Linked DNA regions of Homo sapiens: region 1 is linked to region 2. Evidence: fine-mapped expression QTL. A gene starts in region 2. The other region holds a variant in brackets. All regions are shown on one strand. Distances are between the middles of the regions.

Region 1 (4,384 bases), 37 kb after region 2:
CGCTCCAGTATTTCCCACCTCAGTGCTCAGCCCCAAACCTGGGAGTCATCTTTGCTTCTCTTCTTTCCTTCATCACTCACAACCAGTTCCTATTGGTTTTATCTCCCAAATATCCAGTTATCTCCACACTTCTGCCACCATCTTGGTCCATGCCCCATCTTCTGTAGCCCAAATGACTACAACATTAACCTAAATCCTTCCACTTTTACATCCCTCCGATCCAGTCTTCTCAAAGTAGGCTGAGGACTCTTCAAACAAAGAAAGTCAGATGTTGTTCCCAGGCTCAACTTTCTTTAAAATAAAATCCAAAAAGCCTTCCCAAGGTGTGCAGGACTCTGTGCTGTCTGGCCCTTGCCAGCCTCTTTGACCCCATCTCCAACCTCTTTCTTCTGACTTCCTCTAGTCCAGCCTCATGGGCCTGTTCTTCAAACACACCAGGCATTTAAAGAAAAGAAGAATTTAAATCATCTTGGATGCCCCCATACTAGACATTTTATACTTGCTATTTCCTCTCTCTGCACAGTCCTTTCTCCAGACCTATGTTGTTTAATATGGTAGCCACTAGCTACATGTGGCTATTTAAATTTAAACTAATTAAAATGAAGTAAAACTAAATTAAAAATTCAGTTCTTAAGTCACACCAGCCATATTTCAAATGTTCAATAGCCTGAAGGGGCTAGTGGATAATTGGACAGCACAGATATAGGATATTTCATATATACATATATGGAATATTCTACTGGATGACCCTCAGAATTTAGAGGTTGTATGTCTGGGTCCTTCTTAATTCTGAGAGGTCAGCTCAAATGTCTCCTCTTCAGAAAGGCCTTCCCTGACCACCTGGTCTAATGTTGACTCTCCTGGTCCCGACTCCTCCCCCATTACATTCTTCCAGTTGGTCTTCATCAGAACAATGATTGCTATTCATTTCTCTTCACATTTGTATGTATTCGTTTTTAAAAATCTCTCCACTTTGACTGTAAGCTCCATTGACAACAGGCACCTTAACTGCTTTATTCAGTACCATATTCCCAGGACCTAACACAGCGCCTGGCACACAATGGGGGCTCAATAAATAAATGCTGTGTGTGCCAGGCACTGTGTCTGGCATTGAAAGCACAGCAGGGGTCCGTGGGACAGGGAGAATCCAATCCTGAACATGCATGCCATTTTGTGACTGTGTGACCTTATGCAAATCACCAGCCTCAGTTTCCCCAGCTGTCAAGTAGAAAAAGTAATAGTTCATCTCTCATTGCGCAGTTGAAGAATTCAAGATGATCCTGCATTTCAAACCGTGCAGCACAGCAGGTGGCATGGAGAGCACTCAGTCAGTGGGAAATGTTATTATTAATTATTAGCTACAACAGGAGGTCCCTCTGCCTCCCTAGCTAGTTTCCCCAACTACAGGGCAAGCAGTTGGATTAGCTCAGTGGTTTGCAGTTAGGGACAGAAGTTGTCGGTGAGCACAGGATCATTTTAGATGGTAGAGAGATGAGATTTAAGTAACGTTAAATCGCACACTCAGACGCTGAACCAGCATCCAGTTCTCTTTTAAACCTGATTTTGTCAAGGATAAAGTCTCAGGATGGTGCTAATATGGTTTTAACACCTCCCTAATCCTCACTGAGCTCACTTTTCAAAGCCAGGAGGACACAGAAGCCTCATCAGGCCACCTAACATTTATTACACTGAACCATCTGCAAAAGTTGTTTTAGGAAGGTCAAAAAGGGTCAAGTATCAGCAATTTCAGGTGGTCCAACCCAATAAACATATTATTTTCTTTTCATTGTGCAGGATTTATTTCCTTCCTTACCTTCTATTTATGACAAAGAATTCTATTCTCTATTCAGGACAGTAATATAAAGTTGAACATGCTTTTGTTTGAGTGAAAAAAGAAGAAAAAAAGCTAACTTTAAGCAAATGATTAGGTCAAAAGTTATAAAAATGGTTTTCAGAGCCTCAAGTCCAGGATATGGACAGGGAAAACAACCTTGATTAGGATTCTGACTCAGGCATCGCCGGTGTCATTGGAGCAGGAGCCTTCTGTCTTTGAGTCCTAGGTTTCTCTGCCATGAAATTGGAGTAATTACAATGCACCTACCTCGCCAGGTTGTTGAGGACTCCACAAGGCGTAGCGTGTGGGTCTCCTAGCCTAGGGTGTGGCACTCAGGAGTGGCACGGGCATGAATCCAGGGAGTGTCGCCAGAGGAGAAAAGCCACCCCACCTTCAGGCCAAGGATGGTGCCAGGTGCCAGGCACCCACAGATCCCTCCTTTTTCAGGTCTTGGCTCAAGGGTCAAGCCCTTTGGGAAGGCCTCTGGTCGGGAAGCCGCCATTACATCTCTAGGCCCCTGGCTTGGCTCCTTGAAGTCTTCACCTCATGTCAAGATAATTATTAACTAATTATTTGGATAATTGTTTGAATAACATCTGC[G/A]TCTGTCCCCGCTAGACTCCAGGTGCTGAGAGCAGGGACTGTGTCTCTGCTTGTACAGCACCCAGCACAGTGGCCGGTGTTTAATAGCTGTTTGTTGAATGAATAAATGATTCATGAACGGGGTTTCCAGAGAACCTGCCTACAACGGCAGGGAAAGATGGGAAAGATCCATAAGGATCTTAAGGACTACCAATTTGGGGTGAGGTCACATAGGTTTGGGGTCAACCCAAGGATTAAAATAACAATCTAGAAGGTTCTGGAAGGGGCTGAGTATGAAGACAGAATACTAGAGGCCGGGCTCGGTGGCTCATGCCTGTAATCCTGGCACTTTGGGAGGCTGACGCGGGCTACTTGAAGTTAGAAGTTCGAGACCAGCCTAACCAACATGGCGAAACCCCGTCTCTGCTGAAAATACAAAAATTAGTTGGGCGTGGTGGCGGGCGCCTGTAATCCCAGCTACTCGGGAGGCTGAGGCAGGAGAATCGCTTCAACCCGGGAGGCGGAGGTTTCAGTAAGCCAAGATCGTGCCACTGCCTTCCAGCCTGGGAGACAGAGCAAGGTTCCATCTCAAAAAAAAAAAAAAAAAAAAAAAGGAATACTACTAATAAAGTAATAACGGCTAAGTGGCTAACTTTCAAGTCCCTTCTACCTGCGACATACTGAAGGCTCGACGCATTACCTCGTTTCAATATTCACAGTGACCTTCTCTGGTAAGCACTTATAGATTAAGCCCATTTTCCAGATGAAAACAATTTAGGCACAAAGCAGCTGCTAGGCTACTGGCTCAAAGCGGCAGCGTCAGGACGCGAACCCATGTCTTTCAGCTTTCCAGAGAGGACAGGAAGCCTTGAACGCGGGAGGGGCTGCTGCGAGGGTATTTTGGGAGGTGAAGGGTCTGGGGTCGGAGGGCCAACCTCAGCCGGGAAACCAGGTCACCCAGGGACAAGCAGGAAGAGCTCTGAGCTGTCCCCACTGGACCCGGCCCCGAGTGGGCGGGGGGCGGAGCTCGCGGCTCCCACGCCCCCTCCCCCTCCGGCCTGACCCCTCCTACCATTGTCCCGAATGGCCGCCGCGCCTCCACCCCCGCGCATTCTTACCTCCTGACAAGGCCAAGGTCAGGGAGGCGATCACTAGGGCCAGGGGCCACATGGCTCCGGGATCGGGAGGGGAGGGCAGGGCGGGCGGGGCCTGAGGAGAAGGTGAAGGGGGTGTTGAGGGCGTGCCCGGAACCTCCGCGTCTGAAACCTCTCTGCTCCTGAATGTCTCCTCGCCTCATTCACTCTTGACAGCCCTGACCCTGGAATCTGCCCCCCGCCTCCAATTCCATCCTTGGTGGGGGTGCAGTGGCGAGGTGGGAGGAACAGTGTGCAACCTCCTGGGGCTCCGGCGTGCAGCCCCTCACCCCAGGAAGCCGTCCCTCCTCCCCTGCCCTCTGGCGAGCTGGGTGGTCGGTGCACTCTCGCCCTTTTCCTCCAGAGTCTGCCTTCCATTCTACCCCTCTGGGTCTGTCCACACGCTTGGTATTAGCCCAAGTTCTTATCTGTCCGCGCCCTTCGCCTCTCTCCGTCTCTGCAGGTTTCTCTCTAGATCTGAGACTCTAGCTTCACTCTCCCTCTCCCTGACTCAGCTGCCCTTCTGCTTTCCCCATCCTTCCTATCCCCTCTTCTCTCCCCTCCCTGCCCTCCTCCGCTCCCCGCCCCCGCCCCAGGCAGACCCTACCTGAGTGAGGGGCCCACGAGGAGCGTCAGCCGCCAGCTGTCTAGAACTTCAGCCCCGAACCATGGCTTTTAACCCCTGAACTCCCTCCCCCAGCTCACTCAGCATTTCCTGGTCCCTGGCCTCCCCCTCTCCACCCCCAGTGGCTCAGCGGGATGTCTCCAGGCACCCCCGACCTGGGCTTGGCCCTCTGCTTGGGGCGGAGCTTCCAGGACGTGCTGGGACCTAGGTCTG
Region 2 (4,384 bases):
CCCCCGCACCCACGGCTTGAGGCAGTGGGCTGCTGTCAGGAGCCATCTGGGGGCGATGAGCGTCGCCCCACAGAGTAGCCGCGTCTTCTCGAACAGGGCTGCCTGCCAGGGCTGGGAGTGAGGCTTGCACTCGAACCCCTTGATGATCCTGGTCTCTCCCCCTACAAGCCCTGGAGGGGGTGAGAGCAAAAGAAGGGGCTCAGGAAGGAGAGGTGGTAGACCAGGAGGACTCCCAGAAATGGGGGTGGGGAGGAGAGAAAGAGAGTGGGTGGTCTGGGCCCTGGTCTGGTGTCCCTCTGGGTTGCCCTGGATGCTGGGGTCGGGTATTAAAGGATGAAAATACTTCCATAAGGTCAAATGCAGTGGCTCATGCCTGTAATCCCAGCACTTTGAGAGGCTAAGGTGGGAGGATTACTTGAGCCCAGGAGTTCTAGATCAGCCTAGGCAAACATAGTGAGACCTCCTCCCCCATCTCTACAAACAATTAAACAATTAGCCTGGCTTGGTGGCAGGTGCCTGTGGTCCCAGCTACCGGGGAAGCTGAGATGGCTTAAGGATCACTTAAGCCCGGGAAGTCAAGACTGCAGTGAGCCGTGTTGGCACCACGGCACTCCAGCCTGGACAATAGAGCAAGACTTTGTCTCTGGGAAAAAAAAAAAAGGAAATACTTCCATACTGGTTGGTCAGTAGCCCCTGTCCTGGGCGCTTTGAGTGACTGCTCCCCCAACTCCAGCTTCCTCAGCCCCTCCACGGGACCCTTTACGACCCCCTTGACCTCTCCTCCTTTGGCATTTAAAGGGATTATCTAGAAGGGCATCCAGGCCCTCATGACCACTGCTCCAGTTCAGGTGCCTTATGGGTTGTTCTGTAATTTGGAATCAGCCCTGTCACTGTCCAGACACAGAGGGTTAGGGGATCCCAGAGATTCAAGAGGGAGGATCCTGCCCTGCCCCCATCCCCTGCGTACCTGTTGCCAGAGCAAGCAGGATTAACTGCAGAATCCTCATGGCCTGGAGGGGGGAGGAGCGGGCCCCAGGTTCCTCTGGGAACAAGGAGGGACATGGGGCCGCATCACTTTACGGGGAAATCGGGAGGGGGGGGCTGGCTCATGCCCTCTCCTCTCTCCCTCACCTGCTCCCGCTCCCCACTTGGGAGAAACAAGGTTGGGGAAATCCCCTGTTTCTCACAGCACTCAGATCTCCAAACACTTAAAATATATCTTAGGTGTCTAGGGTGGCCTTGGAGAGGGCCTGGTCACAGCTAGAAGCTTCCGAGATACCAAGAACCATGTGGAAGTCGTTGGGAGGGGCTTTGAGCTGTCAAGCCATGGTTCGGCCCTGTTCAAGTCAGCCATGGGACCTCCCCGGCACATGTCAGAGGATGTTTTCCTTCTTGCCTTGAGAGCTGGCCAGGCCCCAGCAGCTTGGGGTGGAAGGACAAGGGGAACCAGACACCGTTCCGTAGCCACCCCTTTTTCATTGTCTTCGCAGCAGAGCGATATGGAGCCTTTGAGGTCTGCTGGAGGGGAGTAGGGGGCTCAGCCCCAGACAATGTCTGGGACCCCCATCACCCGGCTTGCTGAAGCCCTGTCCGCCAAACCCCTGCCCTTTTGAAGGACAGCCAAGCAAAGCTGGGCGGGGCTGGTCGAGGGGAGGGCCAGTGCCCTCCGCTGCCCTGGCCAGCGGGGGTGGGAGCAGAGGGCCAGCTCAGCAGCTGAAGCCATGGAGATTAGAGGTAACTGAGGCTGCGGACAGCCATCGGAGGTGAGAGGTGTAGAGAGAGGCCAGGAACCCCCACCCAAGCAGAGAAGGACAGAGCAGAGGGAGAAATGGGTGCCCGAGTGGGACAGGTGTCCTTGGGGAGGGCTGACACCTGGACGGGGAGGGGCAGCTTCCCTTTCCTCCTGGACTCACAGGCTCTGGGGCTGGGGCTCTGGGGGCCCAGTGGCGGCGGAGACGGCAGTGGCGGCAGCTACAGCAGGTAGGCTGGGTTGGAGCGCCAGGTGCCAGGCACCAGGCAGGCGGGCTGGCAGGGGGGCGGCCCTGGGCGGGCCCAGGATGACTGGCCTCCAAGCCCTGCCTTAATGCCCCGGGGCGGGGTGTGTGTGAGGGCCCTCCCCGGAGGCCTCTGAGGCACTGGCTGCCTGCCTGTGCCACCTCTCCAAGCCCCTCTTCTCCCTGTGTCTCAGCCTCCCTCTGTCTGTCTGTCTGTCTGCAGCCTTCCTTTCCCTGCCCTGAGTCTCTGAATCTGTGTCTCGTTCTATGTGTCATTCCCTGTCATTCAGTAATTCTGACTTTGTGTGATTTTTCTCTTTCTGTCCCTATGTGTCTGTCTGCCTTTCTCTGTCCTCGTCCCTGTCTCCATCTCCACTCTTCTCTCTCTGTCTGGCTCTGTGTGGCCCTTTCTCTAATTCCTTCTATCTTTGTGTCTCTCAGTCAGTCTCTCTGACTGCATCTCTGGCAATTTGTCTTGAAATCCCTCTTCTTCCATCTAATCTCCGTCTCTCTTTTTCCTCCCGTCCCAGCCACTCCCTCTCCACAGCCCCAGCCCAGGTGGGCCCCTGGCCTCCCCTAGGCCGCTCCCTTCTCCTTTGCAAGGAGAGGGGGGGTGTGCTGGGATGTCACACAGGTGGGGCTGCTGCCAGGCACAGGGGCAGGACCGGAGGGTGGGGGAGGCAGGTCAGGGCCTGTGGAAGCCGAGTCCAGGAAAGGGAACAGAGCCCTTGGCTGTGCTCCACCCCAGGGCTCCTCTGGGGCCTCGCTCCTCTGCTGACCCTTCCCCTGCCCGCTTCTCCCTGCCGCCCAGGCAGCCCGAGTCCAGCTGTTCACTTACTGGCTGCTGTGAGACCTCTGCCCGATGACTTCCAGTCCCGCAGCCACCTCAACCTCTGCATCTGCGGAACCCGAGCGCAGATTCCTGCTTCTCCCAGCTTGTTTGTTTTCAGTTAGGTCCCTTCCCTTGGCTTTCCTCCCCTCTCTCCCCTGACCAGGTGTGGAGCAAGGCAGGGGAGGGCCTAGGTTCTGACAGCAGCCAGCCCTGGCCTCAAACCTAGGTGCTTCCTCTTCCTACTACTATGACTACCCTTATGACGTGGGGACAAGGGACTCCACCCCTGCAAGGCTCAGTTTCTTCATCTGAGAGATGGGGGTGACAGACCTGCTTGCAGGGGAGGTTGGGATCAGGCTTCCAGGAGGGTCCACTTGGAAAGAGCAGACTGCGGGGGGGCTCAGCAAATGTGCCTCCGCTGGTATGATCACCCCTCACTCCCTCCCTCCTCCAGTTTCCCTTCAGTGCATTTGGGGAGATGGTCTCTCCTCACCTCTTGAGTCCCAGTGGAGACAGAATCCAAGGGGTGGGCAGGAGGATTAAAGACGTAGGCTGAGCTCTCCTGCTTTCCAAGCCTGCACTCCACCCTTCGTCTTATTAGAACAAAGCCACGTCCCACATTAAAGATACAATGTATGCTTCATTACAAGAAAGTAAACTGCAGTTGGCTAGTGGAAAGAATGCTACGTTTTATGGACATTGGATTAAATGGTCATAAATGTTGACTTTGCAGCTTTCATCTGGTATTTTGGAGCTAACAATTTTCTTTTTCTTTTTCGGGTCTTTTGTGGACTCTTGAAAAGCTTATAAGCTCTGGGCACTATTTCTATTATGCCAGATGAAGAAACATGTGTCTTATTTATATTGCTGGGTTTTTGTTTTTGAGACAAGGTCTCACTTTATTGCCCAGGCTGGAGTGCAGTGGCATGATCTCGGCTCTTTGCAGCCTCCACCTCCCCGGCTCGGGTGATCCTCCCACCTCAGCTTCCCAAGTAGCTGGGACTACAGGCACGCACCACCACACCCAGCTAATTTTTTGTGTTTTTGTAGTGACAAGATTTCACTGTGTTGCCAGGCTGATCTCGAAATCTGAGCTCAAGCCATCCTCCCACCTCGGCCTCCCAAAGTGCTGGGATTACAGGCGTGGGCCACTGCACCCGGCCTATATTATTAAAAGTAACTTTTTCTACTCCATTTCTGAGTAACTACTCAGGGAAGACCCTCATCCTATTTGAGCACTGGGTTTTTTGTTTGTTTGTTTTTGAGATGGAGTCTCGCTCTGTCGCCCAGGCTGGAGTGTAATGGTTCAATCTCGGCTCGCTGCAGCCTCTGCCTCACGGGTTCATGCTATTCTCCTGTCTCAGCCTCCTGAGTAGCTGGGATTACAGGCATGCGCCACCATGCCTGGCTAATTTTTGCATTTTTAGTAGAGTTGGGGTTTCACTATGTTGACCAGGCTGGTCCCGAGTTCCTGACCTCAGGTGATCCACCTGCCTCAGCTTCCCAAAGTGATGGGATTACAGGTGTGAGCCACTGTGCCTGGCCTTATTTGAGCTCT

What was found. PIP is the estimated chance that this variant, and not a neighbour inherited with it, causes the effect. A credible set is the group of variants that fine-mapping cannot tell apart.
Region 1: its variant is the best candidate, but not a certain one, in a credible set for the expression of KLK11 in pancreas (GTEx, PIP 0.79).

The regions. Positions count from the first base shown.
Region 1 is chr19:51,061,485-51,065,868 of GRCh38, forward strand. KLK13 (kallikrein related peptidase 13) reads right to left here and starts at 3,608. Exons shown (of 5, transcript NM_015596.3): 1 at 3,532-3,608. The coding sequence starts at 3,583. The variant G/A (reference allele first, on the strand shown) is at 2,435.
Region 2 is chr19:51,024,625-51,029,008 of GRCh38, forward strand. It overlaps KLK11 (kallikrein related peptidase 11), which reads right to left and starts at 1,992. Exons shown (of 6, transcript NM_001136032.3): 1 at 1,914-1,992; 2 at 968-1,042; 3 at 14-170. The coding sequence starts at 1,007. RefSeq lists enhancers at 1,071-1,629, 1,630-2,187, 2,747-3,303.